Homo sapiens: one gene and its partner. The protein of the gene in region 2 interacts with the protein of the main gene of each other region in a pairwise test. Each region holds a gene or a part of one and is shown on either strand. Other genes may lie near its edges. The genes, in order: USP53 and IREB2.

Evidence for each region.
Region 1: the proteins of IREB2 (region 2) and USP53 interact in a two-hybrid assay, tested with the Homo sapiens proteins (one large-scale study listed by BioGRID and IntAct).

What each region holds. Positions count from the first base shown.
Region 1 is NC_000004.12:119,215,611-119,219,432, reverse strand, and holds part of USP53 (ubiquitin carboxyl-terminal hydrolase 53), read right to left. Parts: intron 1,884-3,822; 5' UTR 1,760-1,883; intron 1-1,759. UniProt on the Homo sapiens protein: Deubiquitinase that mediates 'Lys-63'-linked deubiquitination of tight junction proteins, such as MARVELD2 and LSR, and which is involved in the survival of auditory hair cells and hearing.
Region 2 is NC_000015.10:78,444,601-78,448,422, forward strand, and holds part of IREB2 (iron-responsive element-binding protein 2), read left to right. Parts: intron 1-3,822. UniProt on the Homo sapiens protein: RNA-binding protein that binds to iron-responsive elements (IRES), which are stem-loop structures found in the 5'-UTR of ferritin, and delta aminolevulinic acid synthase mRNAs, and in the 3'-UTR of transferrin receptor mRNA.

The DNA of each region.
Region 1 (3,822 bases), on a different chromosome or scaffold from region 2:
AGCAGTCATTATAAGAAGAGAAAGAGAGAGAATGATGACAGAGGCAGAGGCTGGAAGGATGAAGCTGCAAGTCAAGGAACACCAAAGATGAACAGCCACTGCCAGAAGTTAGGAAGGGGCAAGGAAAGATTCTATTCAGAGCCCTCAGTTGGAACCAATCCTGCTGACACCTGGATTTTGGACTTCTAGTTCCAGAACTGTGAGAGAATAAATTTCTGTCATTTAAGCCACCCAGTTTGTGGTTCTTTGTTACAACAGCCCTAGGAAACTAATATAATAGTTGATAAAGCCATGAGACTCTTTGTTCTTTTATGTGTATGGATTTTTTTGATTATCAAACAGTACTTGTTCATTAGATTTCTGAAATACCACAGAAATACTACATAAAGAAAATTAGAAATATCCATAATTCCATATTAGCACAGAATCACTGCAAATATGTTCTTAATAGTACACAGTCCTAGCCATCAAACTGTAAAGTAAAACTTCATATTAACATCTTTTCACTAACAATATAGCACCTCAAAGATACACTGAGGACTTTCTGATGATATGCTACAACTGCTCATCTTACTAGAAGTATTTAAGATTTTATTTTAGATAACTAGATAGCAAACAGAAGAGTTATACCAAGTTGAAGTAATACAAAAAAACTCTTCATCTTCAAGTAGATAGTGTCAGAAAAAAGAAAAAATATATCTTTCATTACAGAAGTAACTGTGTTTATAAAGCTAAAGGATTATAGTAAGGAAGGTATAATTGAAGAATAAATATTCTTTGATGTGTAAAACCATTGTCACTCTAGAAATGGAGGAATTAGAGAAGACTACAGTAGAAAATTTATAAAACACAGAAAATAAAATTAATAAGAAAAAAGACTATAATACTGCCAACAAAAAAACAGTAAGTTTTAAGTAATTTTCAATGTTTCCACTTTTTTGCTCTATTTCTTTGTGTCTAACAAAAAACCGTGCTATATTTCATGTTGCTTTTACCTATTCACTAGTTTCCACTAGTAACTAACTAGCAAAAGACAAGCATACACATGTATCCAGAATATAGGACATGGTCATTAAAGAAAATGGCTTACAGCAGTCTACTTTTAAGACATGATCTCCAGAAGAAAATTATGTCAAGCCAGCAATAACCTAACATTTATTTGCCTTGACAAAGCCCCAGACTGAACTCTTACTTTATCTATACCTTCCTCCCCATCTCAGCCAATGGCAACTTTATCTTTCCAGTTGCTGAGAACAAATATCTTGATGTCATCTTTGACTCCTTTTTCTGTCATATTTCAGGATCTGACCACTTTTCACCACCTCCACTTCAACAATTCTAGTCTTGGCCATCATCACATCTTGTGTGGATTAAAAAAATAGCAGCTTGTCTCCTGGCTTCTACCCTTTACACAGTAACATATAAGTCTATTCTGGAGAGCAGACAGAGATCTTTCTAAAATTAAATCATAATGTCACTATCTGCCCAGCCCCTCATCTAACTACTTGACCTTTGGCTTTCCCATTCCAGCCACATCAGCCTCCTTCTCATTCCTGCACACTATACAAACTTCTGTTCTCTATATTGTTTGCACTGGCCATTCCCCTGCCTGGAATACATTCCCCCCATAACGCCCACATGGCTTTGCCCTCCCTCCCTTCATAATTGCTTTGCCAAAAAAGTCACTTAAATGAGGCCTACACTTATTTAAAATTGCAAACCATCACAATCTCTACCACGCTTTCCAAATTCCTCTTACCTTGTTCTACTTTTTCATTCCTCCTTGGCACTTTTCTCCTTCTAAATATATTATAGAATTGACTGCTTATTCTTTATTGTCTCTTCTCCAAATCCACTTAGAATGTAAAGCAAATCCCAAGCATCTAGAACAGAACACAGTGCATGGTTAAGTTTTCATCAAATATTTATTAAAGGAAGCTCAGGAAACAAAGTAAAATCTCAAACAACAAACCCTTTGGAAAAAACAGTGTTCCTAACAAAGACAACCTAGGCACTAAAGTATAGGACAATTTCCTACCATCTGGCAGGTAGGTCAGTGTCAGTACTACACTGACAAAGGAGGAGCATTATCTCATGCCTATATGGTAGCATCATATAGGAGGAAAAATTTAGGGCTCAATCTGCTCACCTAAGTATGGGGAGGGGCACCATGAGAGGGGCAACAGTTTATTATGCAGGCTGAGGAGTTAAGAAAAAGCCAAAGAATGAGGTATCTGATGGGCAAAGAATACCCTGATGGCTTCTTGACAAGGATGGAATCCATACCCTGATAGTGACCTTATAATTCCCATAGATATTTTATTCCTCCTCTGATATAAAGTTTACAACACATTGCTCAACTACTCAATCATTAAAAATCTATCAGTTTCATCATCTATAATCAAAATCATAGGGCTACTGTGAGAATCATAAACCATGTATAAAATACCTAATAAATGGCCAAAACATAGGCATTCAACGAATGCAGGCTAATTATAATAACATTATCTTCCACGTAAAATGATTTTTAACAATGTCAACAAGGATTTAGAAAAAAGCAGACGCTGTATTATATATTTTATACTCCATTTTGCTATCTTTAAGGAAATACCTTAAACTGATATATTAAACTTAACCATTGCTTTAATTCAGATTAATGAGATCAGATAAATTGTTCAATGAAATATCAATTTCTTAATTTTAAAATTTTAGTAGCTGTTCTTAGTAAATCATAAGCAATTTTGTTACGGAGCTATCCTAGTTTAAGAATATCTAGCATATGAAAAACCTAATTTATAAAATGAATGTTTGGGAATACTTCACATTATAAGTGGATTTTCACCACAGAATTGTTGTAAATATTCATTTACAAAACCTTTCTGGACTAGAAAGGAGAGAAGGAGAAAATGAGTTAAAATGTTAACAGCCAATGGATCAGAAAGAAAGATAAAGTGACTGAAGTAAGTGTCAGCAACAGAGACTTGATTTAGAAATTTTCAACCAAAGTATAAGTTTTCAGAAAAATAACTACTTAATGATTTTTTTTTTTTTTTAGACAGAGTCTCACTCGGTCGCCCAGGATGTAGAGCAACGGCACAATCTCAGCTAACTGCAACCTCCGCCTCTTGGGTTCAAGTGATTCTCCTGCCTCAGCCTCCTTAGTAGCTGGGACCACAGGTGTGCACCACCACGCCTGGCTAATTTTTGTATTTTTTAGTACAGATAGGGTTTCACCATGTTGGCCAGGGTGGTCTCAATCTCCTGGCCTCAAGTGATCCGCCTGCCTCAGCCTCCCAAAGTGCTAGGATTACAGGCGTGAGCCACAGCACCCAGCCAACATTGTCTAATTAACTTTTGACTTTCTAGTGTTTAGCACTATGCCTAGCATACAATAGGAGGTCAATAATGTTTATTCAATACTTCTAACTCAGAAAAGCGCAGCAGTAAAAAACTTCCAAAGGAAGGGTATTTCTTAAAACTTCTTTTTTGTAATATGTGTAAAATTGAAAACTAATGTTATCTTCAAATTAATTCAAAAATACCATGACACCTCAAATAACTGATTTTGTTCATAAAAATAGCTAAGATATTGGAATAAGGTTTATTTTGCAGAAAAAATTCTGATGAACTGCAGAGTATATGAAGCAACTCTTCTGAAGTCTCATGTAAAATCATAATTCTTTAGCCAGATGCAATGGTTTGTAGCCTTTTCTTGTATCATGGACATCTTTGGTGGCCTAATGAAGCCCCCTATGAATAATGTTTGTAAATGAACAAAATAAAATTCATAGCATAAAAAAAAGAAAAAGAAAAAAAAATACT
Region 2 (3,822 bases):
ATTTAATTTTTTAGGAGAGTTTTTATCATTTAGAAGAATCACAAAAAGACAAGAACATTGCAGATGGTACAGAAAGTCTCATTTTTATGTGTATACAAAAATATATGTAAATATGCTACTTTTAATAAAAATAAAGTATATGTTGTTTTGTAACCCTTTTTTTCACTTAATATATCATGAACATCTTTCCATGTCATTGAATACAGGTATCCCTTGCTATCTGAATCTACTTGGTTTCTGAGTCAGGGAGCTTGAGTTCAGGTAGAAAGGGATACCTGTACTTCTCTGTGGCTTCTAATAGCTGCACAATATTGCCTGTATGAATGCATTGTGGTTTAGTTAACAGACCTTTGAATATTGAGGCTGATAGTAACTTTTCTCTATTTATAAATAAACTTTGTATGTGCTAATACTTACATTTTTGTGCAAACTTATCATTATATAGAATTGTTGGATTGAAAGTATGTTATTTCCTCCACCCCATCACACGCTTTTATTTTTATACTTTCACTATTTACTGTTGGTTCCAGTCTTTATTTTTTTTTTTTTTTTTTTGAGACAGAGTCTTGCTGTGTTGCCCAGGCTGGAGTGCAGTGGCACAGTCTCAGTTCATTGCGTCCTCCAACTCCTGGGTTCAAGTGATTCTTCTGCCTCAGCCTCTGGAGTAGCTGGGATTACAGGCCCATGCCTTCACACCCTGCTGATTTTTGTATTTTTAGTAGAGACAGGGTTTCGCCATGCTGGCCAGGCTGGTCTCGGAACTCCTGGCCTCAGGTGATCCACCTGCCTTGGCCTCCCAAAGTGTTGAGATTACAGGCATGAACCACTGCACCCGGTCTGGTTCCAGTCTTTACCTTGGACTAAAAAGAACAAAAACTCACTCAAGTAAAAAATAGGTTGCAGTTTCCAGACATCCAAAGACAAAGGAAGAAAGCATAGTCAAGTTTCAGGGAACCAGAATTTCTAAGCCAGAGGCAGTGTTCTGTTTGTCACTTAAAGGCTGCCTGGTTTCCTTATTTTCTGTTTCTTTTTGAATATCCAGTCTTCCATCTCTACAGCCTACTTCACTTACTCATTTTTGTATAATGCCCAATATGGCCACTGCTGACCATTCTTGTATGTTATGACTGGATTACTAACCGGTTAAGAGTGTACCTCTAGGTGACTCTTTTACTTGTTTTGTTTTGTTTGTTTTGTTTTTTCCCTCAGGGTCTTGCTCTGTTGCCCAGGCTGGAGTGTAGTGGTTCGATCATGGCTCACTGCAGCCTGGACCTCCCGGGCTCAAGTGATCCTCTTTCCTCAGTCTCCCAAGTAGTTGGGACTACAAGCACATGCCATCATGCCTGGCTAAATTTTAAATGTTTTGTAGAGACAGGGTCTCCCTACATTGCCTAGGCTGGTCTTGAATCCTGGCTTCAAGTGATCCTTCTGCCTCAGCCTCCCAAAGTGCTGGGGTTACAGGTGTGATCCATTGTATCCAGCTCACCTGTTGTTTTAACCTATTTTGACTGCACTTGTCAGGAGTCTATTGCCGGTCTGGTGATCTTGCTGGTAGAGACACAAATCTGTTCATCTTGTCTTTTATGTGGACTCTTGAAAAGACTGGGTTGGGTAAGCAATGTAACAGTTTGCTTGTAATTTGTACACATAGTACATAACTTTCCAAGGATTACCTTTACCTAACATCATCCTACTAGTCCATGTATAGCCATGTGCTCACCAACCCTCCACATTTCAACTTTGTTTTTATTGCCAATTTCTATTCTAGATTAGGCCCTTTTGGTTCCAAGGAACAGACACTAGCTCGAGTGAAGAAGGATTTATTGTAATGATACAGCGCTCCCCAGGCCAATGAAATGTGGCTGTCTCTCAAGAAAATGGTGGTGGCCCAGAATTAAGGAAGTTGTTTATTATTTTCTCTTAGGAGCTTCAGATTTCTGCCCTGTTCCACTCTTCTGCTTCCTCCACTTCACTATAGACAAGCCTCCTCTGCCTGCTCACTTTGTACATGGCCTCAAATGGCAACCTCAGTCCCTAGCTTAGCTCTTAACACCTTTCCAGTTCAGTCTCTCTGTGTCCTGATTACACATTTCTGAGAGGTGAATCTAATTGCCCCAGTGTCTCCTTTCTCACAAGACTTTTGGTCATCAGCCTACCAGGGGATTGGCTTTTGCGTCGCTGCTGTAGCCAAGGAGGCCACAGGCCACCGAGAACTGTAGCAGTTTGGACAGGCACCATGAAGGACATCTGTTGTATAGTGTTAGCAAAGAATGCCAGTTTACATGCTTACCAGTGAATGAGAAGAATATGTGTTTCTGCACCTTCATCAATAGTAGATATTATTTTTCTTGTTGGCTCAATTTCTGTCAGTGAATGAAGAGAAGAAAAAAAACTTTCTTCTACATTAAATTGGGGGGTTTATTGTGAAGATTTGAAGGAAATAAGGAAATTGAGGGGATCTGAGTGCGTGGTCAGATCAGACTCTTTGTTCCCTTCAGTAGGCATGCATAGAACCCATGATTCTGGCTTAGCTGATTTTCCCTATTTCTGCTTTCCTTTCTTTTTCTTTTCTTTCTTTCTTTTTTTTTTTTTTTGAGACAGGATCTCTCTTTGTTACTCAAGCTGGGGTACAGTGATGCAGTCATAGTTCACTGCATCTTCAACCTCCTGGACTCAGGCAATCCTCCCATCTCAGCCTCCCACTACAAGAAGACACCACTACACCTGGCTAATTTTTTTTTTTTTTTTGAGACGGACTCTTGCTCTGTCACCCAGGCTGGAATGCAGTGGCACCGTCTCGGCTCACTGCAACCTCCGCCTACCAGGTTCAAGCAATTCTCCTGCCTCAGCCTCCTGAGTAGCTGGGATTACAGGTGCGTGCCACCATACCTGGCTGATTTTTGTATTTTTAGTAGAGATGGCATTTCACCATGTTGGCTAGGCTGGTCTCAAACTCCTGACCTCAGATGATCCACCTGCCTCGGCCTCCCAAAGTGCTGGGAGTACAGGCGTGAGCCACCACTCCCGCTCTGATTTTTTTTTTATCTTTTATAGAGACGGGAGTCTCCTGAACTCCTGACCTCAAGCAGTCTTCCTGCCTTGGCCTCCCAGTGTGCTAGGATTACAGGCGTGAGCCACCATGCCCGGCCCATTATTCTGCTTTTCTTTTTCTCTTGGTTCTTTTTTGTTTCCATCTGTTTTCTGCCTTCTCCCTAAGTCAAGTTCAAGGTATCACAGAACGAGGCTGAGGCAGCCTATTGGACATGACATTTGTGCTTGGCGAACTCCCTGTGCCACTGGCCAGACTGTAAATTGGTTGTCTGTTGGAAGGCTGGCTCCAGGTCCCAGCTATTCATGCCAGGATGGCAAGGCTACACAGAGCCCACCAGCAATTGGTATAGAAGGAACTTTTTAGAAAGAGGGCTGTGGTATAGGCATTCTGAGGACGTGCCAGTACAGGTGAAAAAACAAAATCTTATGCAGGAATCTGTTTTGTTTTCTGCTTCCTCAGACTCTCTCAATGGCAATGTATGTATGTATGTATGTATATATTTATTTATTTGAGACAGAGTCTTGCTCTGTCATCCCAGCTGGAGTGCAGTGGCATGATCTCAGCTCACTGTGACCTCTGTCTCCTAAGTTGAAGTGATTCTCGTGCCTCAGCCACCCAAGTAGCTGGGATTACAGGTGCACGCCACCACGCCCGGCTGATTTCTATATTTTTAGTAGAGATGCGGTTTCACCATGTTGGCCAGGCTGGTCTCGAGCTCCTGGCCTCATGTGATCTCCCTGCCTCAGCTTCCCAAAGTGCTGGGATTACAG